Regions from separate parts of the Homo sapiens genome. Here regions 2, 3, 4 and 5 are each linked to region 1. The links come from fine-mapping of genetic effects on gene expression. A gene starts in region 1. Each other region holds a variant in brackets. All regions are shown on one strand. Distances are from middle to middle.

Region 1 (5,941 bases):
TCCGAAAAACGATCACTCATTTTATGGTACAGTAAACATCAGAGTAAATACCACGGGAAAAACATACAGAGTCCAAATTACCAATACTTAAGAATTAAACTTACTAGGCCGGGCAGGGTGGCTCACACCTGTAATCCCAGCACTTTGGGAGGCCGAGGTGGGCGGATAACCTGAGGTCAAGAGTTCGAAACCAGTGTAGCCAACATGGTGAAATCCCGTTCCTACTAAAAATACAAAAATTAGCCAGGCGTGGTGACGGGCACCTGTAATCCCAGCTACTCGGGAGGCTGAGGCAGAAGAATCACTTGAACCCGGGAGGCGGAGTTTGCAGTGAGCAGAGATGGCGCCACTGCACTCCAGCCTGGGTGACAGAGCGAGACTCCGTCTCCAAAAAAAAAAAAAAGAAAAAGAAAAAGAATTAAACTTAATAAAAAGATACTGCTTTTGTAGGGCAGGACAATATAGCTAAATTTTCTAACTTTTGACATCTGAACCACATAAGTTTCAAGGATTGATGGTCAAAAAGACCCTGGGCTCAAAAAAACCTATTTTAGACTCACTTCCACAGATATAAAGTTACACAAATTTATGTGTCAAAGCAGAGAGGGCATATTTGTTTTGGCCTTGCTCTCCCTCCTTCCCGTAAGCCCTCTGTATTTCCTATTTCCCTATTTACAAGTGTATACTTACATGTATTACAAAATTCTCCATCAAATACCTGGGGCTTTTCATGGTTATAGTGTTAAGTGACCTAAATTAAGATAAATACAATTCTAGTCTAAAATTTGGTAGCCTATCAAATCCGCATTGCATAATGAGACAAGTTTCTTTTTTCTTTTTTTTTGAGACGGAGTCTCACTCTGTCGCCAGGCTGGAGTGCAGTGGCGCGATCTCGGCTCACTGCAACCTCCGCTTCCCGGGTTCAAAAGATTCTCCTGCCTCAGCCTCCCAAGTAGCTAGGGTTACAGACATGCACCACCACGCCCAGCTAATTTTTGTATTTTTAGTAGAGACGGGGTTTCACCATGTTGGGGTTTCACCATGTTAGCCAGGATGGTCTCGATCTCTTTACCTCGTGATCCACCCGCCTCAGCCTCCCAAAGTGCTGGGATTACAGGCGTGAGCCACCAAGCCTGGCGAGACAAATTTTTATGCAGTTTAAACCGCCTCAAATTTCAAAAAATAGTTCTTTGAAAAAAAATAAGCATTTACATAATCACCAGGGATTCTGATTTTATTCTATATAGAACCTAAATGTTCGGATAATCTTTATTCTAGTTGCGTAGAATATGTTATGGAAACAGGATGTGGAAATAGAATTGGATATACAAGACTGCTAAAGATTATACGAAACGAGGACGCTGCCTTTCTTTTAAAGTGATAATTTACTGTGTCTTGTTTTCTGTTGTGAGAATCGGCTAGCCTGAAAACTGATTAAGTAAAACTGTACTTGAAAATTAAGTAAAACTTAACTACACCTAGCACTAAACACTGCAAAGAACATTGTGATTTACATGGTTTTCTCTCCCTGGACCAGTAGAGGGAGACTAAGACATCTGGCCTGGTCTTGTAGTGTTTCTGTAAAATTGGGGAGGGGGGGAGCGGAGGCTGTATTTAAATGTCCTGCTGTCAATCAAAAGACACTTCCTACAATCACAGTCACCATATCTGCTATTACTCGTGAGCGTGCTCTCGCCAAGAGACAACACCAAACGGGGCCCGGGAAACCGGCTTCAACTAAAGGTGACCGCAGGCTTTGCCACAACACCCAAATAAGGACTTTGGGAGCCCAACCCCAACTAGTTTCTTTGTTTAAATGCCTGTGAATCCCTCCCACGCCGGAGTCAAGAGGCTGTGGCGCCGCCCTTTATTAGCCTCACACTTTGATTACAAAACACACGAGTCGGCGGCCTGGCTGCGGAGGCGGCCCGAGCTCTCAAACGTCAAACCCGGAGCGCGGCGGCGGCTGAATCAGAGGGCAGCGTCCGCCGCCGCCGCCAGCCGGCCCCGCAGCGTCCGCCCGGCCGACTCAAGTTCGCCGGCACCGGCGCCCGGGCACAGCCGCAGGCGGTCCCGGTGTCGCCAGCTTCGAGCGATGGCAACTGCACTCTTTGTAAAGTTTAAGCCGCGGCGCGAGGGCAACGCAGGGGGTCCGGAGAAGCGTTCCCTTCGGGCCGCCGCAACCCACTCCATCTGCCCCAGTCCCGGCGACCCGGGTGTGTGCGGGGGCCCAGGACCGCGACCCGGGTCAACCTGCCGCCCGCCGGGGGCCCGGCCCCAACTTCCCCGGCACCTTTCAAGTCCCCGAGAGCGAGTGCCTCATCTGTTGCTCTGTTTACTCCGCGGAGCCCCGCCGAGCTGGCTGGCGCGGTCGCCTCTCCGGCCCGCCGCTGCCCCCGTCCCACTGGCCCAGGAAGTTTGATAAAGACGGGGAAGGGGGCGCGACAGGGACCCGCGGCGCGGAGGAGACGCGGGGCCGGGGCGACCCCATCGCCGCCCGGAAGGAAGGCAGGCGCGTCGGCCGGCCGGGCAGAGCGGCGGGGCGGCCGGCGACTCCGGCCGGAGCCCCGGGCGCGGCGGGGCGGGGCGGGGCGGCGGCGGCCCGGGCTGGCGAGGGGCTGCGGACCCGGCCGGCGCTCCGCCCGACGCCCCCGCCGCGCCCGCCCGGCCGCGTCCCCTCGCCCCAGGCTCCCCCTGCCAACTTATCCGCCGGCCCTCTTTGTTCGTGTTTGTTGTGGCGACTCTTCGCCCGGGCCAGGCGAGCCCACCGGCTCCCCTCTGGAGCCCGCCCGGCGAACCCGGGGCACCGCGCGCCCCACTGCCCGGCCGGGGGGCTAGGCACCGGGGCCCCCTGAAAGCTGGGCGCGGCGCGGCGGCCCGGCCCGAGGGAGGCGCGGGCGGCCGGCGGCGGCGGCGGTTGGTCGGTGGCCGGCGGTGGCGGCTGCGGGGCTGGAGGGGGTTTATTTACCTGCCGTGGAACCAGTCCTTGCAGATATCGCACTCGATCATGAAGCGGTTCACGTCGTACGGCTGCCGGCACACACAGTACACGGGCGGGGGCGGCGGAGGCGCCGAGGCCCGGCCGGGAGCCGCCACCGACACGGCTGCCGCGGCGGCTCCAGCTGCTGCTCCCGCGGCCACCGCCGCCGCCGCTCCGGCCATCTTTAAAAAACACACACACGCTCGCTCGCTACTCCGCTCGCCGACTGGAGCGAGCGCAGCCGCCAGCCAGCGCCGCCTCCTGCAGCAGCCGCGGCGGCGGCGGCGCCTCAGTGCGCGCGCGCGAGGCCGCGGCGGCTGGCGGAGGGGGAGGAGGCGCGCGCGACGCGCGAGGCCCAGACTCGGCTGCTTCCGGCGCTCGGCGCGGGGCCGTGCGTCTCGCGCACGTCTCTGGCGCCGGCGCGCGCTCCCCGCTCCTCTCCGCGACGGCCGGGCGGAGGGAGCTGTTGAAGGGCACGCAGGCGGCTGCGGGGGCGGAGGGAGCTGAGGCCCCGTGAGGACACGCGCGGTGGTGGCGGTGGCGGCGGGCGCGCGGCCGCAGCCGGAGGAGGACGGCGGGAGCGTGCGAGGAGCTGGCTCGGTTATTTCGGAGCGAGAGCCGAGGCCGGGGGAAGTTCCTGCGGAGTGCTCAAGGGCAGAAGAGGTGCCGCGTCCCGAAGAGGGGAAGCGGAGAAGTTTGCTGCTGCCCGGGTCGCCTCGCGACGCTGAGAGAATCGCCCAGCCCTCCGCAGCCGCCCAGCGAGAACCGGAGCTGCGGCCCCGCACCGGCGTGAGTCCAGCTGAGCTGACACGCCGAGCCGGTTGTGCCTTTCCGAGGGAGGAATGTGCCGTGGAATCCAAACTTTGGAAAACGTCCCACCCGAATTCCCAGCGAGCAGCAAGGAGACCAGAGCGTCGATGGAGCCACCGTTAGTTGCGGGAGGGCTGTCCCCAAGAGGAATTCATCACTGTCGTCCGCTGGGAGGGACCAACCTTGAAATGGGGTTGGTGGAGAGAGGGATAGAGAAGAGCCGGCGTGCTTATAAATAACAAAACTTAGCTATGAACCCTTCCGATTCCCAAGTGGGGAAGATGGGGTAAAATTCTAAGTGACTTCTCGCTCCGAAGAGGGATACCACAAAAAGCGGAGCGCAGGGTACTTGGCGTATAATAAGCCATCAATAATTTATGGGTGAAATTGAGAGCCAAATATAAGATGATAAACTGAAGAATAAAAACAGCTGACAAATACTGTATAGAAAAGATTGCGTTGGAATCATAACTGTGGATTGGAAGTGATGTTAAGGATTATTGGATTGAGTATTTGTAGCTGAATTTCTGCTGGCATTTCTATCAGTGGGGAAAGCCCTCACAGCTCCATAGGTAATTTTTGTTAGGGGAGGAAGAAGTGTTGTTCTGTCACCCACCCCCAGGCAAAGAGTCGCTGATCTAATTCTCCATTTCTTTCTTTCTTTCCTTTCTTTCCTTCCTTCCTTCCTTCCTTCCTTCCTTCCTTCCTTCCTTCCTTCCCTCCCTCCCTTTCCTTTCCTTTCCTTTCCTTTCTTTCCTTTCTTTCTTTGAAACGGAGTTTCGTTCTTGTTGCCCGCGCTGGAGTGCAGTGCAGTGCTGTGATCTCGGCTCATTGCAACTTCCACCTCCCGGGTTCGAGGGATCCTCCTGCCTCAGCCTCCCAAGTAGCTGGGATTACAGGCGCACGCCACCGCACCCGGGTAATTTTGTATTTTTAATAGAGACGGGGTTTCACCATGTTGGCCAGGCTGTTTGAACTCCTGACCTCAAGTGATCCGCCCGCCTCGGCCTCTCAAAGTGCTGGGATTACAGGCGTGAGCCACCAAGTCCTGCCTAATCTCCTTTTTATAGTTGAGGAAAGCTAGTAACTTGACTGAAGTCTCATATATTAGAGCTGTAACTGAAGTTTTTAAGTGTCTCAATTCTGCAACTATTCGTTTTTCTATCACATCACTGTTTGGCATATATATAGCGGGAAAAGGAAAGGCTGGAAATTAGTTGACCACACACTGATTAAGCTTGAAACATATTTCTACTGGAGAAAAAAAGGTACTGTAATTTTGGCATAGGCATCACATATTGCTGGAGTGGAAAGACCCATGCACTCAGGTCCTGCTTTCTATAATCTGTGACCTCGGGCCAGTCACTCCATTTCTCCTGAACTAGATCACTGATGATCTGTTGAAAGAAAAAATATGGCTAGTAATGCCTTAATTATCTCACAGAGGTTTTACATGGAGCAAAAAGACAATGTATTTTTAAATGTACTTTGTTGAAGGTGTGTGTTGTCGAGACAATACAGCAGTGAAGAGAAGGCATGCAAAGCTGTCTTGTTGGAGTCTGGCTAAAGAGCACCAAAGCAGCCTGTTGTGGGATGTCCTCTGGGGGCCACCTGGACTTGCTATGTTAACATGGAGGGACTAGGCAGGGGTATGAAGAAGGAAGCCCAGCAGAGCAGGAGGCAGCAGCAACAATGAGAGATTGGTTATCCATATGACTTGGATCTGTGTCCCCACCCAAATCTCATGTTGAATTGTAATCCCCAATGTTGGAGGTGGGGACTGGTGGGAGGTGACTGGATCATGGGGGTGGATTTCTTATGAATGGTTTAGTACCATCCACTTTGTATTGTCCCCGTGGTAATGAGTGAGTTCTTAAGAAATCTGGTCATTGAAAAATATGTGGCACCTCCTCCCTCTCTCTTTTGCTCCTGCCCCGGCTATATGATGCAATTTGTCTTCAGCCATGATTGTAAGTTTCCCGAGGCCTCCCCAGAAGCTGAGCAGATGCCAGCATCATGCTTCCTGTACAGCCTGCCTTCCATGAGCCAATTAAACTTCTTTCCTTTACAAATTACACAGTCTCAGATATTTTTCTCTTTTTTTTTTTTGAGATGAAGTCTGGGTCTGTCGCTCAGGCTGGAGTGCAGTGG
Region 2 (5,941 bases), 48 kb after region 1:
ATCTAAACTAACTGGTACAAATCAGGAATAGCTTCAACAATTTTCTCTAAGCCTTAATGACAATCCTCAAATAGCCTGAATGCATCTCTGGGGCTTGGGAAGGTATGGCCAGCAACTTCCTGCTCACTCTGGAAGCCCCCGTGTGCTGTGTTTCCAGAGCCAGGAGAGGCAACATTGCTCAGTCCTTGGAGGACCAGGTCACACAGGTTCATCAGGGTTTTCTAAGTCTATGTTCTGGACTCTATTTCCAGAACTCCAGCCACTTCCTGAGCCTTCAAGCTGCTGTTTTCCCCTAACCCCAGAAAACCCCTGAGGTTGTGTAATTATGAACTCCAAACACGGAGCACCAAAAATCAACAGAAGTCAGGAAAAGAAGCTCCTTAACCTTGTCCAAAGAAGCTCAGTAAAAATACAAATAGTAGCTGTGAGTGAGGCAAAAACAAATCTGTAAACATAAACAGATTAGAGGCCGGGCATGGTGGCTCACGCCTGTAATCCCAGCACTTTGAAAGGCCGAGGTGGGCGGATCGTGTGGTCAGGAGTTCGAAACCAGCCTGACCAACATGGTGAAACCCTGTGTCTACTAAAAATACAAAAATTAGGCAGGCGTAGTGGCATGTGCCAATAATCCCAGCTACTCAGGAGGCTGAGGCAGGAGAATCGCTTGAACCCAGGAGGCAGAGGTTACAGTGAGCCAAGATCATGCCATTGCACTCCAGTCTGGGCGACAGAGCGAGACTCTGTCTCACAAAAAAAAAAAAAAAAAAAAAAAAAAAAGAGAGAGAGATTTGAATTCATTGAATTCAATAGAGATTTAAAAATCATTAGAATGGGAATCTTGAAACTTCAGTAAGGATTTTCCTGTTAAAAAACAACAAATTCGGCTGGGCGCAATGGCTCACGCCTGTAATCCCAGCACTTTGGGAGGCCGAGGCAGGCGGATCACCTGAGGTCAGGAGTTCAAGACCAGCCTGGCCAACATGGTGAAACCCCGTCTCTATTAAAAATACAAAAATTAGCCAGGTGTGGCGGCGTGTGCCTGTGATCCCGGCTATTCAGAAGGCTGAGGCAGGAGACTCGCTTGAATCTGGGAGGCAGAGGTTACAGTGAGCCAAGATCACGCCACTGCTCTCCAGCCTGGGCGACAGAGCCAGACTCTGTCTCAAAACAAAAATAAAAACAAAACAACAAATTCAACCTGACTGGAGAGACCAGAACGTGGGAGTCCCCCATTCGTGTCCCACTGATAAGAAGTGTCCTAGGAATCACAGCAGCTGGTGTCTGAGATCAACAGCCCCCCAGTCACTAAAGCGCTACCCTGCCTTTCACACTCTAGCCCCAGAGCTGGGAAGGGAGCACTCATGGGGACATTGTCCCTGTTCGCAGAGGGAACACGGCCGCTTGTCAGCGCCTTATCCCACTGTCAGGGCAGCTGGCTGGGATGGGAGGGGAGACTGCATGAACCCCCATATTTGTGAAACTGAGTAAAAAGGAAGTTCACTTCCTGAGAAGGGTGAACTAGTCAGGCATGACATCTACAATCACCTTGCTTATGAGGCTGCAACAGAGGGGTGCTTGTCTACAGAGGACGTTAGCTACACAGGCGACGGCCCTGGGCAGATGACAGCCACGCTTGCCCATGGCACTGAGCATACCATGGTGCCCGGTGACAACACTGGGGTCGAGTCTGGAAGCCCTAGAGAACTCTGCTTCCCAGGGCTGCTAACACTGACTGGGGAGGACCCTCTGATGTTACAAAAGCCAGAAAAGGCACCCCCGGTCTCTTTCACGAACCTGATTTCCCTGTAGGAAGTAAGTTCTTGCTTCTCTTAAAACGCGATTCCCAGAACTGAACATAATAAATATTTCATTCCTAGGACCCTAAATGGTCCAATGGGACCGTTACTTCCCCTGTTACTTTCTAGCAACGTGACTTCTATCTTCTGTGGAAGTGGGAAAGCACCTGACCTGGGGTCTCATTCCACTTCTGCCACTTAAGGACTGAAGCCTCTTTGAGATTCAGACTCTTTGGCTGTCAATGGGGGTAAAAATACCCTGCCTATCGCTGTGAATCATTCTGAAGGGAATATGCTCATACACCCAGTGTCCAGCAGTCTGGGGAGACGTGAGATCCCTTTGCACGGATACCCCATGTCACAACGATTCTGAGGCCCCTGATGAGCGCAGGCCCTCAGCCCCAGCCCTGCAGAAGTATTCCCTGGGTCTTTCAGGGAGTCCTCAAAAGGGTCCCCGACATCTGTTGAACCAATCAGTCCCAGTCATCATTGTATCCTTCCTCTGGCCTGTCTTCTGTGGCTTGAGGTCCACCAATACGAGCCTTGGGGCCACTACCTCTAAGACACAGTGCCCATGGGGCTGCCAGGCTCCAGGTCCGGGGCTCCGTTGGTGCTCTAGATCCCTACACCCTGCGTGACCCAGCAGTGCTGATTCTGTGCACGGATGGAGAAAATGCACCTTCCACCCTCAGCCACTCCGTTATCTCCTGCAAGCAACTTTCAGCAACAACTCCCACACCCTGCCAAAAAAACAACCACTGACAAAAA[C/A]ATCAGTTTCCACAGGAGTGAGCTCAGCCGTTCACACCTTCAGACAACATCTCCCCTGGACTCAGGACTGCCTCAGCCTGAATGCCTGATTAACACGCCCAAGCCAGAACTGTGAAGCCCCTCAGAGGGGAACAACAAGAGAGCACAGCTGCCTGTCCCGGAGGCCTTCATGAAACCAAAGGACTTCACCCCCACAGTGAACTGAAACATCCACCTCCAAACCCAGAAAACTGCTGGCCACTTTCAAAAGACACCTCCTCCTCCCTCTCAGGAGCTGGGCCACGCTGCAGCCTAAGGCACCTCTGTCCACGTTGGAGGAGGAGGCCAGAGGGACCACCTAGGGAAAAAAAAATAAAGCATTCAGAGTCAAAAAATACTGTTGATTGCAGTGTGGCAGAGGTGCTAGGGCAATGGGGGAACACATAGGTTCAGAGAAAATCAGACAAATGCAAAAAAGAAACTGCCATTAAGTCCAGAAGGAGAAAAGGGTTGTTTAATCACAGAGTGTTGTCCTAGAACACTACATGGCTCAGAGGTGAGCCATGCCCCCTCCTAACACTACATACCTCCTCCTAATAATGTGAACAGTTGTCATTTATTTCATAAAGTACTGGAATACAAGGATACAGAAGGGGGTATAGGAAGGAGAGCGTTTCCTCCGCTACCATGATTGGAAGTTAACAAGTAGTGTGCAAAGTCGAAAATCAAGAAACAGTAATGTGGCTGGACGTGGTGGCTCACACCTGTAATTCCAGCACACCTGTAATTCCAGCACTTTGGGAGGCTGAGGCAAGCAGATCACCTGAGGTCAGGAGTTCGAGACCAGCCTGGCCAACATGGTGGAACCCCATCTCTACTAAAAATACAAAAATTAGCTAAGTATAGTGGCGCACACTTGTGATCCCAGCTACTTGGGAGGCTGAGGCAGGAGAATTGCTTGAACCTGGGAGGCAGAGGCTGCAGTGAGCTGAGGTCACCCCACTGTACTCCAGTCTGGGCAACAGAGTGAGACTCCATCTCAAAAAAAAAAAAAAAAAAAAAGGAAAGAAAAGAAATAGTAATGTAAGCATATTGTTTAGAAAAATGGTGGAAAATACAAGAAAAATGGCTACAGAGTTGGCAGTGCCGGCCTTCAGGAAGACAGCCTTGGGGAACAAGAGGCTAAGCGCAATTGTAATTTTTCATTATACTTTTTATGTATTTATTCTACTTTGCTTTTTATAGCTATGTACATGTAGCATTCTGTTAGAGATAATTTTATATAAAACAAGTCCTGACCAGGCATGGTGGCTCACACCTGTAATCCCAACAATTTGGGAGACCAAGGTGGGCAGATAACTTGAGCCCAAGAGTTCAAGACCAGCCTGGACAACATAGTGAGACCTCATCTCTAAAAAAAATTTAAAAAATTAGCCAGGCAGGTGGTGTGTGTCTGCAGCCCCAGCTACTGAGAAACCTGGGAGGTAGAGGCAGCAATAAGTCATGATCACGCTGCTGCACTCCAGTCTTTGCAACAGAGTAAGACCCTGTCTCAAAAAAAGAAACCAAAAAAAAAAAAAAAAGAAAAGGAAAATGAAAGAAAACAGATTTTCTCAGCCTCTACAAAGGCAGGTTTCAAAAACCTCAGGGCTCTATCACAGCTAGAGCTGTCATCAGATACGTTGCCATGTGTATTACTTTGCTAGAGCAAAGTAACAAAGTACTACAGACTAGGCAGCTTAAACAACAGTAAAGCATTGTCTCACAGTTCTGGAGGCTGGACGGCCGAGATCCGGATGTCAGCAGGATGGGTTCCCTCTGAGGGCTGTGAGTGAGAATCTGTTCCAGGCATCTCCCTGAGCTGCTGGTGGTTGCCAGCAATCTATGGGGTTCCTTGGCTTGTAGAAGAAGCACCCTGATCTCTGCCTTCATCTTCACATGCCATTCTCCCTGTGTGCATATCTGTGCCCAAATTTCCTTCTTTAGTTTTTATTTTTATTTTTGAGATGGGGTCTCATTCTGTTACCCAGGCTGGGGTATAGTGGTGCAATCATAGCTCACTGTAGCCTTGACCTCCCTGGCTCAAGCAATCCTCCTACCTCAGCCTCCTGAGTTAAGCTGGGGCCACAGGCATATGACACTGCACCTGGCTAGTTTGTTAAAAATTTTGTATTCTCTGTAGAGATAGTGTCTCACTATGTTGCCCAGGCTGGTCTCAAACTCCTAGGCCCAATCGATCCTCCTACCCCAGCCTCCCAAAGTTCTAGGATTATAGGCAGGAGCCACTGCACCTGGCCTAATGGATCAGGGACCACCCTACTCCAGTATGAACTCATCTTAACTAATTACATGTGCAATGACCATATTTCCAAATAAGGTCACATTCTGAGGTACTGGGGGTAAGGACTTCAGCATATGAATGCGGGGGGCAGTAGCAGTAGGAGGAACACAATTTAGCCCAACAAACTGTTAAAACTGTGGAGTGTTATTGTCATATACTTTAAAACAAATTGGCCACCCTGCAGGTCCTGTGTCTTAACATGGCTGCCTTCCTATAATACTGACTGGTACACTTGCTCCCAGAGCTCCCAATTCAACTCTGCAACAGCCCCAACTCTCTTCATTTCTCCCTGAACACACACCCACTGAAAGGTACTCTTGCTCCCTCCCCTCAGCCCCCACATTAACACCTGTCACCCTGTGGTGCTGCTGTGCCTATGTCCTGATTCCTTTGCACAGATCCCTGCTCACTAATTGAGCCTTATCTCTTCTCCCTCTCCCATTGATCCAGCCAGTCCTTTCCTCCTTCTTCTTAGATCAGGGGTGTCCGATCTTTTGGCTTCCCTGGGCCATACTGGAAAAAGAAGAATTGTCTTGGACCACACATAAAATATATTAACAATAGCTGATGAACTAAAATAAATAAATAAAATCACACAAAAAAGTCTCATGACATTTAAAGAAAGTTAACAAATTTGTGTTGGGCCACATTCAAAGCTGTCCTGGGCCGCAGACAGCCCATGGGCTGGACAAGCTGGCCTTAGATAGATTGAGACCAGGAAGCCCCCAACTTCCCCCATAATAGAACTCGTAAACTGAATCTCAGCACAAAAGGATCATCCTCCAGTGGCTGAGTACACTAGAAGCTTGAGTCCTCTGCTCATGGGGCCACTTCCTAGTTGGGTAATGGACAACTTAACCTCCCTGTGGCTGTTTCCCTACCTGTAAAGTGGGACTAATAATAGTAACCCACATCATAGGCTTACATGACATAAAGCATGTGAATCTCCTAGCACAGTGCCTAGAACACAGTAGGTATTTAATAAATACCATTTGTTACTATTTTACTATTACCAGGTGTTACTTTTTATCTTCTTTCATTGAATCATGTCCAGAGC
Region 3 (5,941 bases), 130 kb after region 1:
GGCTTAAGTGATCCACCCGCCTCCATCTCCCAAAATGACAGGATTACAGGCATCAGCCACCGTGCCTGCCTTCTTGTTTGATTTGTTCACTGTCAGTGTTGCTGAGACCAATAGTCAGTCACCTTCTTTCTGGGCCTTGATTTTCTCATCTCTGAAAAGGAGGAAATGTATTACATCAGAGGTTTCTAACCTGAAATCCCTGGATCTCCCAGGGAATCCATTAATCCCTGGAAATTATATGGAAGATTATGCATGTGTGTATTCGAGGGGAAGGGAGTCCGGAATAACTACCCCCATCCCCTCCCAAAATTAAACACCATCATGCTCAGTAATACCCAATAATTTTTTTGTTTGTTTGTTTTTTTGAGACAGAGCCTCCCTCTGTCACCCAGGCTGGAGTGCAGTGGTGCAATCTCGGCTCACTGCAACCTCCGCCTCCCAGGTTCAAGCAATCCTCCTGCCTCAGCCTCCCGAGTAGTTGGCATTACAGGCACCTGCCACCACACCTGACTAATTTTTGTATTTTTAGTAGAGACGGAGTTTCCCCATGTTGGCCAGGCTGGTCTCGAACTCCTGACCTCGAGTGATGTGCCTGCCTTGGCCTCCCAAAGTGCTGGGATTACAGGTGTGAGCCCCCACATCCAGCCCCCAAGAACATTTTGGAGCACTATCATTCCACAATCATGTGGCTACTTGTGTCAGCTGCAGAGCATCACTTTTGCTAAGTGTCTGGTTCCAGCTGAATCTTAAGAAAAGGTGATTCACTTTGCCTTTTTCCTTCCATAAGTTTTTCTGCCCTAACAGAAAGAATACTGTAAAAGTGCAACACCTCTTAATAGCGTCGCCCTCTGATCTCTTCAGGTGAAGGTCATTTCATTTAAAATAGCAAGGTCCTGAATCACGTCCATCAATTTTCATATAACCTCAATCTGGGTCCTTTTGTATTTGGCTGGCTTGTTTTCTAAATGCTGGAGCTATTCTAACCCTCAGAACGTGTCTGCAGGTCTGGTTATCATAACCAAATGGATGGGAGACGGGAGCATACCAATATATTTGGAACAATTCAACAATCCAATTTTCTCTACCCAGAGAAACAGCTCTGCAGCAGCCCCGAATGGCTACACATGCCAGGTTTGCCTAATTGGACATGGGTGTTAGCCCATCACCTGAGCAAAGGAGGGAAGCAGAACCCTCCCTGCCTGTCATGTTCAGAGCTCATTAGTTCCCACACAATCACATTAGGTTACAGATTTTCTGTGTGCCAGTTCCCCAGCGGTACCCTAGCAACAAGTTGAGCCAACAGTTTTCATTACAAACTGCCTTGGTCAGTATAAAGGAACCATCTTATATTTCTTCCAGAGAGCAAAACATGCTAGACTCTTAAGTGTTCTTAATAATTGGCTTCACTGCAGATGATAGAGGTGGTTTCAGAACTCATCCTCTTCCTAAAATATGTATTTCTCTGTTCTTAGTTCTCTAAAGAAATAGAGCTCCATGGCCTAGCGCAGTGCCTCACGCCTGTAATCTCAGCACTTTGGGAGGCCGACGTGGGTGGATCACCTGAGGTCAGGAGTTCGAGACCAGCCTGACCAATATGGTGAAACCCCGCCTCTACTAAAATTACAAAAAATTAGCTGAGCGTGGTGGCATGCGCCTGTAGTCCCAGCTACTCAGGAGGCTGAGACAGGAGAATCTCTTGAACTCGGGAGGCGGGGAGGTTGCAGTGAGCTGAGATTGCGCCACTGCACTCTAGCCTGGGCGACAGAGCAAGAGTGCATCTCAAAAAAAAAAAAAAAAAAAAAGGAAAAAAGGAAAAAAGAAATAGAGCTCCATGATCAACCTTTGTGACTCCAAGTGTGGCCCACGAACCAACCACCGCAGCATCATTTGGAGATTGCTAGAAATGAAAACATCTCAGCCCCACTCCAGACCATCTGGGCTAGAATCTGCACTTTAACCAGATCTTCAGGTGACTCACACATGCAAATTCAAAAAGTACTCCAGAGAAATCACCCAAAGCCCCACTAGTAGACAGTATCTGCCTTACATCTGTGACCTTCTAGCAAGTAATTCATGATCACTAAATGTGAGCCTCTTTCCTTCTCCCTGTTAAAACCCAGGGCACCACCAGAGAAGCTTAGAGGGAGGAAGGGAAGGAGAAACAGGCCCAGAAGATGAAGAACTTGGAGAGAGAAGGAGTAATGAAGATGGAGGAGTGAAAAATGAAAGGGCTTGGGGTGGCCTTCAGAGCCTCCCCATAAGGGGTTTTAGGCCTTCAGGGTGTTCTCCGTAGTCACACACTGCCTCCTAGAGTTACTTGGTTAATAGTCTCTAAATAGGACTCACTTTTTAACTTTGATGACTTTTGAAAAGAAATGCATGTCTCAGGTTTTATGTGCATGTTATAATTTTTCTTTTTGAGACAGGGTGTCACTCTGTTGCCCAAGCTGGAGTGCAGTGGCACTATCTCAGCTCATGGCAACCTCTGCCCCCCAGGCTCAAGCCATCCTCCCACCTCAGCCTCCCAAGTAGCTGGGACTACAGGCGTATGCCACTACACCTGGCTAATTTTTGTGTTTTTGTAGAGCCAGAATTTTGCCATGTCACCTAGGCTGGTCTTGAACTCCTGGGCTCAAGTGATCTGCCCACTTCGCCCTCCCAAAGTGCTGAGATTACAGGTATGAGCCACCATGCCCAGCCATATTTTTTTCTAATACACATTAAAATAGATTCGTGGCTATTAACATTTTGTGAAGTGTTGTTTGTAACCACTGCAGACGATCCCTGGGGACACCTGATCTGGAAGAATGATAGTCCAAGTGGTGCAGGAAGTCCCCTGAGAGCTGGCACAAAATCTACAGGGCTGGTTCTATATCCTCTTTTGTGTGTGTGTGTGTGTGTGTGTGTGTGTGTGTGTGTGTGTGTGTGTGACGGAGTCTCGCTCTGTCACCAAGGCTGGAGTGCAATGGCGCAATCTCAGCTCACCGCAACCTCCGCCTCCCGGATTCAAGCAATCTTCCTGCCTCAGCCTCCCAAGTAGCTGGGATTACAGCCATCCACCACTATGCCCAGCTAATTTTTGTATTTTTAGTAGAGACAGGGTCTCACCATGTTGGCCAGGCTGGTCTTGAACTCCTGATCTCAGGTGATCCCACCTGTCTTGGCCTCCCAAAGTGCTGGGATTACAAGCATGAGCCACCATGCCCGGCTTTTTTTCTTTTTTCTTTTTGAGACAGAGTCTTGCTCTGTCACCCAGGCTGGAGTGCAGTGACATGATCACAGCTCACTGCAGCCTGGACCTCCTATCCTCCCTCCCGAGTAGCTAGGACCACAGGTATGCACCACCATGCCTGGTCAATTATTTTTTTATTTTTTTTATTTTTTTAGTAGAGATAGAGTCTCATTATGTTGGCCAGGCTGGTCTCGAACTCCTGGGCTCAAGTGATCCTCCCACCTTGGTCTCCCAAAGTGTTGAGACTACAGGCATGAGCCACTG[A/C]ACTGGGCTGAGGTTCGTACTATTTTCTCATGTGTCTAAACTGCATTGCAGGACACAAGGGTGTGGTATAATAGTTGTTATTCAGCCAAGTTAAAGCAGCAGTCCACTGCAGATCAGGAGGACCACTCACATAGAACCTGCTTAAGGGTAGTGGCAAGAACTTGGAATAATGATTGCAGATTAGGCCAAGCACAGTGGCTTATACCTGTAATCCTGGCACTTTGGGAGGCTGAGGCAGGCAGACCACTTGAGGTCAGGAGTTTGAGATCAGCCTGGCCAACATGGTGAAACCCCGTCTCTACTAAAAATGCAAAAATTAGTCGGGCATGGTGGCAGGTGCCTGTAGTCCCAGCCACTCAGGGGGCTGAGGCAGGAGAATTGGTTGAACCCACAAAGCAGAGGCTGCAGTGGGCCGAGATGATGCCACTGCACTCCAGCCTGGGTGACAGAGTGAGACTCCATCTCAACAACAAAAAAAAGATTGTAGATTAACAAGCAAATGTTTGCTTAATACTGTAAGTTAACATAAGGCACATGGGTTAGGTTGGCTAGAGTCCTGACTACAGCAGCCATCCAAGACCATCATCTGGGTTCAGAGCATGGATCTAAAAGAAGCAAGAAGCCCTCATCTGGATGTCGGTTGGCCTGAAGGAGCCTGGGGGCCTCTGATCTCCTGCAAGTCACGGCCACGCTTTCCTTCACTTAGCAGCTGGCCTCCACAGAGATGTCAGCAATTCGTAGGAACGGTTGTTCCCTTTATCCTTTGAGAAAAGGGACATGCAAAATAAGCCAAACATTTTCTAGTGTGAACAGACTGAGGTGCTACTTTTAAAAAGAAACAGGGAGCAACCGAAAAGTCCAATGGAAAACAGAAAATAACCAAGAGGTCAGAAACTAACACCAGAGAAGAAAGTAGCAATGATTTAAATGTGCGCATTAACAGTTCACAGGAATGGAACAGAGTTTCCATACGCTGAAAGGTGAGTCTCTTTTCCATCTCCACCGAGAGCACAACTTCAAAGGAACAGACTCAAATTGTCGGAAGGGCTAAAAAGAACAACTTTGACTTGTTAGGGATATCAGACTCTGATCCAAACTAACAAAGGAAATAATGTGCTCGCCTTGGAAAATCTTTTTTTTTAAATGGATAGCTTAAAAAAAAAAAGTGCGCCTGGCTGTATTGTGGGCTAGGGGCGGGTTCTGGCTGGACATTAGGGGTAGAGTCTCTGGTGTCTTTCAATCGGTTATAAAAAGCTCCTAGGCCCTCAGTCCAGTCTTTTCTAGAAGTACAATTAATTATATTGCATTAAATATTGCCTGCGGTAAGTGGGCCATCAATGAAGCTGAGTCTTTCTGTTATTTCTGTTTCCGTGCTTTGAAGACAAGTGTCCTCTCACAGAGCTCTTTGTAAACAGACTTTCTGCCAATTGAATAGAGTAGATTAATTGCACTATAGGAGGAGGGAGAACTTGCAATGTAAAGTGATTCTATGGTACGCTTTACTGTAAAAATGAGAGTCTATTGTAAATGTGGGTTTTTGAAAAGCAAAATGGAAGAGCCCAGGCCAGGTAAAAGAATGAATTCCCATCGCACATAGGATAGAGAAGCAGGGCAGCCGGCAGGTGCCGCATGCACATAAAGCTGTTAGCACCATGCCTAGCCCTGAGGACTCAAGCAACCCATGGAAGCTCCTGAAATACTATCAGCCTGTTTGGATACTGTTATCCTCCTATTCTCCCACGTCTACATAAGCACCAGCAATGACGGAGGATTAAGATTTCATCTAGTGCTCATCAATCTCTTAAATCTCTGTTCAGGAACTGACAGTGGTTCAAATCCCAGCTCTCAGCCGGGCACGGTGGCTCATGCCTGTCATCCGAGCACTTTGGGAGGCCGAGGCGGGTGGATCCCTTGAGGCCAGGAGTTTGAGACTAGCCTGGCCAACATGGTGAAACCCTGTCTCTACTAAAAATACAAAAATTAGCTGGGTGCGGTGGTGGGCACCTGTAATCCCAGCCACTCAGGAGGCTGAGGCAGGAGAATCACTTGAACCCAGGAGGCAGAGGTTGCAGTGGGCCAAGATCATGCCATTGCACTCCAGCCTGGTCGACAAAAGCAAAACTCCGTCTCAAAAAAACAAAAAAACAAAACAAAACAAAACAAAAAAAACCCGCCCTCCTCTCTCTCCACTTAGGTCAAGCCAACCTTCTCCCTAACCTCTGCAAAACTTCAGCTCCTCCCTGCTCTTGCCTTTTTCCGCACTCCTGGGAGCAAAGAGATGAAAACAGATGGTTGCAAATGACTCCTATGGACTGGAGCTGAAATGTAGGTTGAAGGTAACAGTGGAGAGAGTACAGGCAAACAAAGCCCAAAGTCCAGCTCCTTCTCCTCAGCTTTCTGCTCCCTCCAACTTTCCTCTGGAAAGTTCTCAACAGTAAACAGCTC
Region 4 (5,941 bases), 95 kb before region 1:
ATAAAGACTCACTTAGGAGGGATTAAATAACTTGTCAAGGCCAGCCAGGCATTAGGTTGCTCGAATCTTGTGGCCTCCAAAGTCCAGGCTTTTCAGTCTCTCAAGAATAGAGAAACTAGACAATAAAGTGATTACAGGGTCACCCTTCCTCCCCCTGGAGGCTGCAGGCTGCACGCAGCCATCTGGGATGGGGAGGTGAAGCCTTGTGCCAAGGACGGCAGGCCAGCAGAGGGCAGATCCTGGCCCTGACCCCCTCGGGAAGTGGTCTCAGTCCTGGAACACCTATCTCCTGCCTTCTATCTTGTTTAAGCCATTTGTGTCCTGGGTTTTCTCTCCCTCACAGCTGAATCTACATCTGACTCATTCACCACATTAAGGATTTTGGTCTTGATCCCAAGAGCTCCAGTGAGAGCTGAAGCGAGGCCAGGAGCAGGTGGACTGAGGCACGTGAGGATGAGCCGGCAGGCCTTTGAGAGTCACTGGTTGTGGTGGGAAGAGGGAAGATTTGAGATCACCCAGACTCCTGGCCTGGGCAACTGAAGATTGTCGAGGCCCATTCACAGGGAAGCAAGTTTTGTACTGAAGGGGAGTTGGAACCAGATACCGAGGCGCAAGCTGCGTCCATTCAGGTGGACTGCAGGAACCAAGGCAGGAGTTTGCCTTCTGCTCACCCTGCTTTCTGCCAGGCTTCTCTCCCTAACCAGCCCAGACTCACATCTTTGTCCACTCTGGGGCTGCCTGTGGTCTTACAAGGCAAGCCCTCCTGCACCACTGAGCAACTGCTTTCCTAAGCATCACACCGCTCAGAAGTTAAAGCAGAGCCCAGCAACCATGGAGGGCTTCCTGAGCTCTGAAAATACTGTTCTGTGTCATCTGCAGGTGGCCAAAGTCCTTTCATAACTTGATACCACCTTATTGATCTGTTTTATAGTTTTACACATTAACCATGACTATATTTGATATTTTCAAAGTGAAGCACACCTATATAAAGTTTACAAAGCAAGTACAATAAAATTAAGTTTTAGGTTCTAAGTGAGGTGTATATATTTTTAATCCAGCTCATTCACACAATTGATCTCATTAAAGGAAAATCTACTCCTCCTCCTTTTTCTCATAAAGAAACCTGAAATACTCATTCTTTTTAACACCATATTGGTGAATTTCTACAGTTCTTAATAGTTGGCAGAATCCTCAAATTGTAAAGGGTTCTTTCCCCATTGTTCTCCATTTCTCTTTACTCTCTCTCTTCCACTCCCCCCATCCCATATGGCTGCCAGAGGCAGAGCGAAGAGTGCGCAGGGGTGGGGAAAGGGAGAGAGAGCATGAGGAATACCCATGTTCATGGGTTTACTCAATGTTATTTTGAGATTTGTACTAAAATGTGTGGGAGGTGCTGATGATAAGAGAATACCAATCCTAGCCTTAAACTCAGGCTGGTAGGAAAGACAGACGAAACATGGAAAAGTAACCAAAAAAGTGAAAAGGGTAGGAATAGAAGCCAGACTCGGTAGAGAGCAGCGGAGGAGGGAGCGCTTCGCAGCCAAGCTCCCTGGGATTTACCGTGCCCCATTCACCAGCCCTGACCCACCCCATCCCACTGGGCTGTCAGTGCAACACACCAGGAGCAGGCAGGCTGATTTCTTGCGGGCTGTGCACAGGTATGATGGTGTGATTAGTGTGTCTTGGGCGCAGTTAACACATACCTCACAGTAGAACACATTTGTCTCTCTTAATTCCACAAAAACATAAAAGTAAAATGTGTGAAAATGCCCAGCATCAATTATCTCTCCCTTTTGATTCCCATCCTCCCAGAGGTAACCAGCCACTGTTAACCACCTGGTAGCCTTATTCCAGAAACTGAAAGATACCTCAGGCTCCCTAGCCCATGTCCCAGGATTTCTGCACTTTCCCAGGCTTATGTCTGGACTCTGGCTTCCTTCTCCAGTAGGATTCTGTCCCCTTAGGCAGCCGTGCCCTTTGCTCTCTTGTGGATGCCCTGCCTTTAGTCTAATCGTGTTCACACTCGTCGCAGTAGCTTGAGTAAGTGCATTGGTTGGCAGCTGGTGGAACTCAGATGGCATTCGATACAGCAGCACAGAGAGGAGCTTGATCTGATGGCTAGTAGTTAGCGTCTCCTTGTGCCAGGCACTGTCCTTGAGTGTGCCATATGTTTTCATTTATTTAATCACTCAGTAGCCTAGTGAGGTAGATAAGTATGTCGCAGAAAACTGAGGCACAGCAAGGTTATATAATTTGCCCAGGACCAGTTAGTAAAGGTAGAGCCAGAATTTAACCCACTTGACTCTGACTGCAGTCTGTGTTCCTAGCCCTCGGATTCCATGGAGTCTAACAGGTTAGAATGAAGACTCACAAGATCAAAGGTGATAGGCAGACCCATCCTTAATCTAGTGGGTACCATCTAATCAGCTGCCAGCACAGTTAGAATATAAAGCAGGCAGAAAAACGTTGAATACACTGGCCTGGTCTCCCAGCCTACATCTTTCTCCCATGCTGGATGCTTCCTGCCCTCGAACATCGGACTCCAAGTTCTTCAGTCTTAGAACTCAGACTGGCTCTCCTTGTTCCCCAGCTTGCAGATGGCCTATTGTGGGACCTTGTGATACTGAGTTAATAAATTCCTATCTATCTATCTATCTATCTATCTATCTATCTATCTATCTATCTAATCTATCTCCTATTAGTTCTGTCCCTCTAGAGAACCCTAATACAGGTCCCAAAGGGTAAGAGACAAAAATTTGGGCTGCATGCAGTGGCTCACACCTGTAATTTTAGCACTTTGGAAGGCCAAGGCAGGAGGATTGCTTAGGCCCAGGAGTTCGAGACCAGCCTGGGCAACATTTTTCTTTACAAAAAATTTAAAAATTAGCTGGCTGTGGTGGTGCACGCCTGTGGTCCCAGCATCTTGGGAGACTGAGGTGAGAGGATGGCTTGAGCCCAGGAGGTCGAGGCTGGAGTAAGCCGTGACTGCACCACTGCACTGCTGCCTGGGCAACAGAGTAAGATCCTGTCTCAGGAAAAAAAAAACAAAAATTTGCAAAGATTAGAGGTTGGATGGGAAAACTGCAATTGGAGGTTGTGGTAAGTGGGAGGTGAGAGGATGGTGGTAGGATTGATATATGATGTACGAGACTCCTCCAGGGCACCCAGAAACGGAAGGACAGCTTCTAGAATAAGAGCATAGGAAGCTGGGGGTGGTGACTCACACCTGTAACCCCAGCACTTTGGGAGGCCAAGGCGGGTGGATTGCTTGAGGCAAGGAGCCAGACCAGCCTGGCCAACATGGTGAAACGCCATCTCTACTTAAAAAAAAAAAAA[C/CA]AAAAAAAAAAACAAGAAAAAAAACAGATTAGCCGGGCATGGTGATGCACGCCTGCAGTCCCAGCTACTCGGGAGGCTGAGGCAGGAGAATCACTCGAATCTGGGATGTGGAGGCTGCAGTGAGCCAAGATCGTACCAGCCTGGGCAACAGAGTAAGACTGTGTCTCAAATAAATAAATAAATATGCATAGGAGAGGGTCAAATACTATTTCTTACTGTTATTGCAAGTCTTTTGTCCCAGGTCATATTTGCCTTAAAAAAAAAAAAGTAGGGAATTTACACATATTACTTTCCACTTGTAGATCCTTCTTTTTTTTTTTTTTCCTCAACTCTGGCATAGGATTTATGTAAACTTTTGATTTTATAAAATTTCAGAACTAGCACTTTACAAAGTGTAAAGGCATTTTGGAGACACAGGCTGGGAAGAGTCTGGACAAGGCAAGGAGAGACTTGAGCCCAGGAGTGGATCAAGAGGAAGATGTGGATGGTGCTTCTGCAAGGCACGGGTAGGCAGCACCCCAGGATCAGCGATGGTGGGCAGAGCAGGACCTTTTCCTCTCCTCCTTATCTGGGTTGACCACCTACAGAGCTGGGGCAGAAGATAGGGCAGGATGTGGCTTCGGTGTCCAGGGCAGGAGAGGAGGGAGCAGCCCGGGTGGGCAAGGCTGTGAAGGAGGCTGCTGCGCTGCCCCACGGGGCCATGGTTAGGTCCAGCAGAAAGGGCGGAAGGGGTGCACTGGGCATGGCCTCTACTCATATGCCAGCTCTGAGCCTCTGGAAATCCACATTTGGTTCCTGTATCCTAACAGCACTTCTCACATGTCATTTATTTACAGCCTATGTTATTCACTAGAAGGTGAGCTCAATTCTAGAAGATGTTTCTTCAGTGTGCCCAGCTCCTGGAAAAGTGGACTCAAGAGAGGTTCTGGTGACAAAAAACCTCCACAAGAAACTACAGTTTCAATCCACAGTGGGTTGCGCCTGCAAAGAAATTTTTACAACACCAACCATTCCTAAGGACCATCTATTCCTTCCTTAATTAAAAGTATATAGTTAAAAATACTTAGAGAAACAGCTTAGAATAGTCTTTAGAGTCAGACAGACTGAAAATGTCTGTATTCATGTGAACCTGGAAGTGTCATTGGCCCTCTCTGAGCCTTGGATGCATCTGTAGGATGAGGAATGTAGTACCTACCTCGCTGGGTTATTTTGAGAAAGAAATAAAAATATCCTTGCACACAGTAAGTACTCAAATGGAATGAAATAAAAGATAGTAAGGGCTCCTGTTTCAAATCCTGTCTGTAACATAGCATTTGATCCTTCCTACTGTAAAATAATTGGCATTTATCATCAACATCCCACAGTGATGTGTCTCATGCTGTCTCACTGTTGTGAAACCACAAAAATCAGCTGAAAAGTCTAAGAAGAGTAGGTCCTGATCATTGTTTCATTAACGTATGAGCTTTGGGAAGGGCAGACAACCCACAAATTTACAAATAGTATATGGATTTTCACAAAACAAGCAGATTTGTTCAGATTTAGATTTCAACCAATTTCATGAAAGCAGACACAGGAGATGCAAACTGCTTTTGTGGATTCCGTTCTAGGGGCGGAAGCAGCTCTCAAGGTGTGTTTAAGTGTGCATGCTTTGGCGTCCCTGTTCTTTTGCAGATATTAGGGGGAGGGAGGGTATGGTCTTTGGTCCTTCTGGTCACTTGGTTTCTGGGACTCTGAGCTCAGTTTCTCCTCGGGAACAGACTTCCTGCCCACTTGTCTCCTTCCTAGGCTTCTCTTCTGCCCTGGAAGTGATGCCTGCAGGGCTCCTTCCTTCCTGGTCCAGAGTTCCTCTCTCATCTCCTCTAAGGACAGATCTTTTTCCTGGTCCGTATCATCCCTGTCTCTCAGACCCTGAGTCCAAAACTGAGCTCATCTTCCTCACGGAGTGTGCACTTAACACTCTCACCTTCACCAGCCAGCCAGGCCACCACACCCCTGGCTCTCACTTGCCTTTTGTGTCTCACACAAGCTCCTTGAGGCCTGGGACTTGGTTTTGCTCACTCCTGCAGCACTAGTGCTAAAACAGTGCCTACTGTACTGCAGGTGTTAGGAAATATTTGTGGGATGCCTGGGCAGGGGCTGTGAGTGTGCTGAAATGTTCATTAGCCAAGTACCCACATCCGTTTCTACGTTTCAGCCTCATGTTGCCAATTACACTTTTGTATTCTTCCCTCTCTTTGAGCAATCACTCATCCCCAGCAATACTGCTAATAAAATAAGACAATTACTTTTCACATTGAAGTCTTCAGAAGTAGTAAGGAGCAGACGCTGAACCCAGTTTTTCATACTTTTAAATAATTTCCCATGATTCAATCAGCAGAAAAAGGGAACAAAGTCAGAATTGGATATAGAATTCAGATTCTTTTTCTTTCAAGGACGCATTTTATACAATTTTCAACATTTATACTTTCAAACAAAATGAGCAAAAAATACACTAAGTGCTAAAAAAATCAAAACAGAAGTAATACAATTTTAATTTCAATATTTTAAAATACAGAAATTGGAAAGAATACTAAATACAACTTTAAACAAGTCACTTGTCCTCCCC
Region 5 (5,941 bases), 55 kb after region 1:
AAAGAAAGGAACAAAAAGCCTAGGAGTGGATCTCTAGAGAAAGACATTGTATATTTTGTCTGAAAGCATCTTACTCAGGAACTCCAGTTCCAACACCGTTTGGAGATGGTTCTAATCAGAGAAAAGCAAAACCCTAAAACATTTCTCAAACAGTTCTTCACGATCTGCTGCCTAAGACTCTTGTAGTACTTGCCACAGCAATATAGAGAACGTTTAAGCTTCTTATTTGTAATAAAAAGTGACAAGAGGCCAGGCGCGGTGGCTTACGCCTGCAATCTCAGCAATTTGGGAGGCCAAGATGTAGGGATCACCTGAGGTCAGGAGTTAGAGACCAGCCTGGCCAACACGGCGAAACCCTGTATCTACTAAAAAATACAAAAAAAAAAAAAAAAAAAAAAAAAAAAAGCCAGGCACAATGGCTCACGCCTGTAATCCCAGCACTTTGGGAGGCTGAGGTGGACGGATCACGAGGTCAGGAGTTCGAGACCAGCCTGACTAACATGGTGAAACCCCGTCTCTACTAAAAATATAAAAATTAGCCGGGCATGGTGGCGTGCGCCTGTAATCCCAGCTACTCAGGAGGCTGAGGCAGGAGAATCACTTGAACCCGGGAGGCGGAGGTTGCAGTGAGCCAAGATCACGCCATTGCACTTCAGCCTGTGTGACAGAGCGAGACTCCGTCTCAAAATAAAATTAAAAAAAAAAATTAGCTGGGTGTGGCGGCGGGAGCCTGTAATCCCAGCTATTTGGGAGGCTGAGGCAGGAGAATCGCTTGAACCTAGGAGGCGGAGGTTGCAGGGAGCCTAGATTGTGCCACTACACTCCAGCCTGCGCGGTAAGACGGAAAACACTGTCTCAACAAAAAAAGGTGACAAGTACAACTAACAGTTCATTGCACATTTACCGTGTGCCAGACACCCATCTGTTTTGTGTGGGTTGACTCATTTAAATAAACCAATTAACTTTTAGAGAAGGAGCAGTTCAAGAAGGAAGGCTTTCAGTCACATAGCTGCGTGACCCTAGGCCTTCAATTTCTCTTCCATAAAGTGGGGATAATACCCACCTAATAGTTATTGTGAGGATTAAATGAGATAAATGTAGGTATAGCATTTTCACCCAAAGTTTTCCAACGTCATTTCATAGTTATAAAGAATCGAATGATACATTTGAGAAGTACGTACTGTATTAATGAAAAAATGAACAAACCAGGAAATGGAAAATTTTGAGATTCGTTTTGGCCTATTTCAATCTGCCCTTCAGTATGTCCATCCTGGTGGAGGTGACCTTGGACTGGCGTTTGACTCCCCACAGCCAGTCTCTGCTAAGCCCTGTCACCACATCAAAGGGGCCACCTAGACAACGTGAAGTCAGAGGAACCCCAATCCTGCCCACACTTCAAAGGGGCTCCTCTTCCGGAAGTTGTTACAGCATTCCTTTCAAGGAGGGTAAACAACGAAACAGCTCCAGGAGCTCACAGCTCGCTCCAGCTACATCACTGGCCTCCACGCTGGGACGTGGAGCTCTCTGGGGCCCAAACAGCACACCGAAGAATGAAAATGTCCCTCTGCCGAGAGCAAGTCGGCCCTGCTGCCTTCCCATTTCACCCTTCCACTAATGAGCACCAGGAAGCGCCCCTCCCAGGGCGCGCCCTCAATCAGCGTCTGGCCCTGAGCAGGTGGCACCCCTCTCTTCCTCTCTGCCCTCTGTCAAGACCATACCACGGCTGTTTTGACTCCTGGGCTTCCGCCCTTTAGTTTACACATTTGATGATTCCGTTTGAAAATCGCAACCTGAAATACTCCTCTTCTAGGCTGGAGGCGGGGTTGGGGGCGGGGGCGGTGGGTGGCGGAAGGAGGGCCCTCAAACAAAGATCCGCTTTCTCCTGAACAGGTGTCAGGAGACCAAGCTTTGACCTCCAGCTCCCTGGCCTCCGGGCGCGGGCCCTGGGCTGATCTGGCGGTGGACGTGCAGGGCAGCGGGCCCGCGCCCACCAGCTGTGGCAAGTTTCTAGTAAGAGAGGGATAGAGACAGGCGGAGACCGCTGGGGAGTTTCCCGGTGCTCAGCCATCGCATAGGGGGGAACGGACCCTTTTGTGGGCCCTCGGGTCCCCCCGTGGTCCCCGCTGGCGCGCTCGTCCTCTGCCACCCCCAGATCTCTGCGCACTCCCCACTCCTGGGCGTTCGCACTGCCCCCCGGCGCACTCTCGCCGCCCCGGGGTCCGAAGCACCGCGCACTCCACCCCGCGACGCGCGCATCCCTCGACCCTCGCGCGTCCACACCGCCGCTGCGCCTCGCGCCCCCGCACCCCCGCAACCCCACACCACGCCGGCCGGGCGGGGCCGGATGCGCAGACGTGCAGCACGTGCGCTGCGCAGCGATTGGCAGCGCCGCCCCCACGCCGCCCCGCCAGGGAAAGGGTGTCCCGTGCCCTGCCGCGGCTGCTGGTCCCGCGGGCGGGGGCTGTCGGGGCGCGCGGGCCGGGCCGTGGGGGTCGCCGCCCGAAGTGACCGGGGAACAATGACAGCCCGATGGGGAAGGGCGGCGGCTTCCCTAGAGGGCCGGTTCTCTGGCTCGGAGCTGGGGGGCGTGGGGGCCGTAGGTGTTGCTTCTGCGGAATGGAAATACTTTCTGTGAGTGGTGCGCACGTGTTTCCACTTTATTTGGTTGTCAACTGGGGCCCAGTGCACTTAAACCCAGCGTTATTCGGGACCGAGCCAGGAGATCACTGCACCCTTCAATCTGCGGGTGGGGGGAGGAGTTAGGAAGGGGACTGAGTGACAAAAGTGACAGAGGCGCAGCTCATGTGCGTGACCGGGGGAGTGATGCTCAGTTCTGGGTGGGGGACCAGAAAGATGTCCACTGCGGGACTGGGCGATGAAGGGGCGGATTTGAGTGGCGGCTACTGTTTCCCGGCCTGGGACGGCTGCCGGGCGGGCAGGATCTGCAGGCGCGCGGCCGGGACGCGCAGGGAGCGCGCAGGGAGCGCGCAGGGAGCAGTGGGGCTTCCCGGGCCGCTTCGGGGAGGTGGGCAGGAAAGGGCACGCAGCCCTAAGTGACTCTCGGCTGAGACTGCCTCTCCTCATCCCAGCAGTAGCCAGCCAATGAAAAATAGGCTCAGGGGGTTCCCGAGCCAATGGAAGCCCGCGGGCCGTGAGGACTTGCCACTAGAAACGTTTATGGTGTCCCGGCCCGGAGACTTCTGTGTGTTTGTTAGGCGGGGCGGGGGGCGTCTTCCCAGCAGCCCAGGACAGGTGTGTGCCCAGGCGGATTAGAGCGCCTGCTGTTGGTAAGGCCCCTGCCGTGGAGGGGGAAGGGAGGACAG[G/C]GGGAGGGCAGAGGTGAGGAATCTAGGAGCTGGCGAACGGTTTCTCCCGCTTTCTGTGTCCTGCGTCACTTTCCCTTCTGTAAACGGTGGTCTTCCCTTTGTGTCGTGTTTGATCGTTTCTAAATTGCTTTCCCATGCATTACTTTACCCAGCCATCACTGTAACCCACAAGATGGGTTTGATTACTCATTTTACCAGCAGGGGAAGTGAGGCTCAGGTAAGTTAAATCCTAGGCACATGGTGGCACAGCTGCTTAGTACAGGTTTGGGACTGGAACTCAGGTGCCCCGACGACAAATCCAGGGCTCTTTAACTACATCAAAGGAAGGAAACCAGGTCTGTTTTATGATCCTGGTGCCAAGGGCACACCCAGTGATTAAACTGAAATCCAGAAGGACCGGGTGAGTTTTATTTCCCCTTCAGTCATGCTCTTTCAGGTTGTCCCTTTGCAACACAGGTTTGCTCTGCTATTACACGCCATGCCTTAAGATTAAGAGAGTTCACTGACTGCCAGAAAAGCCAGAAGTAAAAAAACAGAATGTGTGTAGGGGCGGGCGGGTTACCCACTGTGCATTTCCTCCTTACCCACACCCTCAGGCCAACTCGAGACCCGTGGTCCTCTCTCATGTTGGTCCCCCACCTGCAGATACTGTTTCCTGTTCCATGGACTGGGCTCGGCCTGCCTAAAATAGGCTGCACCCAAGAAGCTTCTACCTCCACTACTGCCATTATCCCAGCCATGAGGAAATAAACAACTTCCTCCCCGTCCCCCCGCGGCTACATTTATTTATTTATTTATTTATTTATTTAATTTGAGTCTTGCTCTGTCACCCAGGCTGGAGTGTTGTAATCTTGGCTCACTGCAACCTCCTTCTCCCGGGTTCAAGCGATTCTCCTGCCTCAGGCTTCCAAGTAGCTGGGACTACAGGCGCCTGCCACCACACCAGGCTAATTTTTGTATGTTTAGTAGAGACGGGGTTTCACTATGTTGGCCAGGCTGGTCTCGAACTCCTGACCTCAGGTGATCCTCCCACCTCGGCCTCCCAACGTGCTGGGTTTACAGGCATGAACCACTGAGCCCGGCCAAGGCTACAACATTTTTAATAGGAGTGTTTCTCCTAGAGGATTTGTCAGTCGGGGCCTTGCTGTGTCTCTGCTATGGTGCCTGATGAAGTCTCTGGATCTTTTCAGCAAAGCAGATGATGCTCAGTGGTTCCCAGGGCTGAAAGCCCATCACAGTCATCTGTGAAGGCGTTTAAAAATACACATCACCGAGCGCATCTCTGGATTGGGATTCAGCAGGTCCAGGGCGCGTGTTATGTTTTTTGTTTTAAATACTCAAGTGATTTAGATGACTGGTCAGGTTTGAAACCACAGATATAAAATGACTTCCATCTGAAAAGTCTGAAATAACTCAAAGCTGAAATTGGAGGCTTTTTGGTCAGATGGGAACCTGTCATTCAGAGGTCCATCATGCCTAAGAATGTGAAGAATGACAACTCTTCATAAGAGGGTCCAAAAGGGAACGAAAACTCTTTGTGGTAGGAATATCCTATGTTGAGTAATCTGGGACCTTAGGGGAATATAGGGTTAGGGAACTGATACTGGGTGTGAACTGATTTTATTTTCACTAAAATAAAACTAAGAAATCGGCACTCAAAGTCAGTGGCTTACATCCTACACAACTTGTATTCCTATCAATGGATGCTATTTGCTTCCTTTTCATTTATCAGCCCTTGCTTTCTAGACCTGAGCTGTCCAGTACATTAGCCACTAGCCACATGGGGCCGTTGAGCACTTGAAGTCTGGCTAGTCCAAATTGAGATGTGTTGTATGTGTCAAACAAACATTGGACTTCAAAGACTCAGTAAGGAAAAAAATGTAATCATTAATACTTTCAACATTGATTATGTATTAAAGTATTTTAGATCTATTGGGTTAAGTCAAATAGATTATTACAATTAATTTCAGCTTTTTCTCTCCTTCCTTCCTTCCCTCCCTCCCTCCTTTCTTTCTCTTTCCTTCTCTTCCCTTCTCTTCTCTTTTCTTTCTTTTCTTTCTTCATCTCACTGTCTCCCAGGCTGAAGTACAGTGACACAATCATAGCTCACTACAGCCAGGAATTCCTGGGCTCCAGTAATCTTCCCACCTCAGGCTCCTGAACAGTTAGGACTACAGGCACACCCCACCGTCCCCTGGCTAATTTTGTTTTAGAGGTGGGGGTCTCATTATGTTGCCCAGGGTGGCCTCAAACTCCTGGCCTCAAGCAGTCCTCCCACCTCACCCTCCTTAATAGCTGGGACTATAGGCGTGAGCCACCACGCCCCAGCTTTCTACTTTTATTGCGTTAATATGCCTAGTAGGACATTTTTAATTACATATTTGGCTTGTGGAGGCTGGGAACATTCTTGATCTGGATGATAGAGGTATATGTTTGTGTGTGTGGTGTTGAAATTCATCAGACTGTGTCCTTAAGTTTTGTGTACTTTACTGCTCTATGTAAGTAAAAGTCAGTTTAAAAATTAAACAATACGGCCGGGCGCGGTGGCTCACGCCTGTAATCCCAGCACTTTGGGAGGCCGAGGCGGGCGGATCACGAGGTCAGGAGATCGAGACCAC

The links. PIP is the estimated chance that this variant, and not a neighbour inherited with it, causes the effect.
Region 2: its variant is fine-mapped to the expression of KDM7A in whole blood (INTERVAL, PIP above 0.99).
Region 3: its variant is fine-mapped to the expression of KDM7A in whole blood (INTERVAL, PIP above 0.99).
Region 4: its variant is fine-mapped to the expression of KDM7A in whole blood (INTERVAL, PIP above 0.99).
Region 5: its variant is fine-mapped to the expression of KDM7A in monocytes (TOPMed, PIP 0.95).

Annotation. Positions count from the first base shown.
Region 1 is chr7:140,173,776-140,179,716 of GRCh38, forward strand. It overlaps KDM7A (lysine demethylase 7A), which reads right to left and starts at 3,208. Exons shown (of 20, transcript NM_030647.2): 1 at 2,969-3,208. The coding sequence starts at 3,162. It overlaps KDM7A-DT (KDM7A divergent transcript), which reads left to right and starts at 3,486. Exons shown (of 1, transcript NR_024451.1): 1 at 3,486-5,865. RefSeq lists silencers at 1,937-2,216, 2,227-2,406, 3,047-3,146, 3,187-3,616 and an enhancer at 2,841-3,764.
Region 2 is chr7:140,221,453-140,227,393 of GRCh38, forward strand. No RefSeq gene overlaps it. Among named protein-coding and RNA genes, the nearest start is that of KDM7A-DT, 47 kb to the left of the region's middle. The variant C/A (reference allele first, on the strand shown) is at 2,565.
Region 3 is chr7:140,302,407-140,308,347 of GRCh38, forward strand. It overlaps LOC124901758 (a long non-coding RNA gene), which reads right to left. Exons shown (of 2, transcript XR_007060560.1): 2 at 1-151. Among named protein-coding and RNA genes, the nearest start is that of SLC37A3, 93 kb to the right of the region's middle. The variant A/C (reference allele first, on the strand shown) is at 3,497.
Region 4 is chr7:140,079,012-140,084,952 of GRCh38, forward strand. LOC124901757 (a long non-coding RNA gene) reads left to right here and starts at 3,786. Exons shown (of 2, transcript XR_007060559.1): 1 at 3,786-3,842; 2 at 4,173-4,577. It overlaps KDM7A (lysine demethylase 7A), which reads right to left. Exons shown (of 20, transcript NM_030647.2): 20 at 5,735-5,941. The variant C/CA (reference allele first, on the strand shown) is at 3,337.
Region 5 is chr7:140,228,335-140,234,275 of GRCh38, forward strand. LOC107986854 (a long non-coding RNA gene) reads left to right here and starts at 3,152. Exons shown (of 2, transcript XR_001745386.2): 1 at 3,152-3,287. RefSeq lists silencers at 2,199-2,358, 2,939-2,988, 3,039-3,088. The variant G/C (reference allele first, on the strand shown) is at 3,324.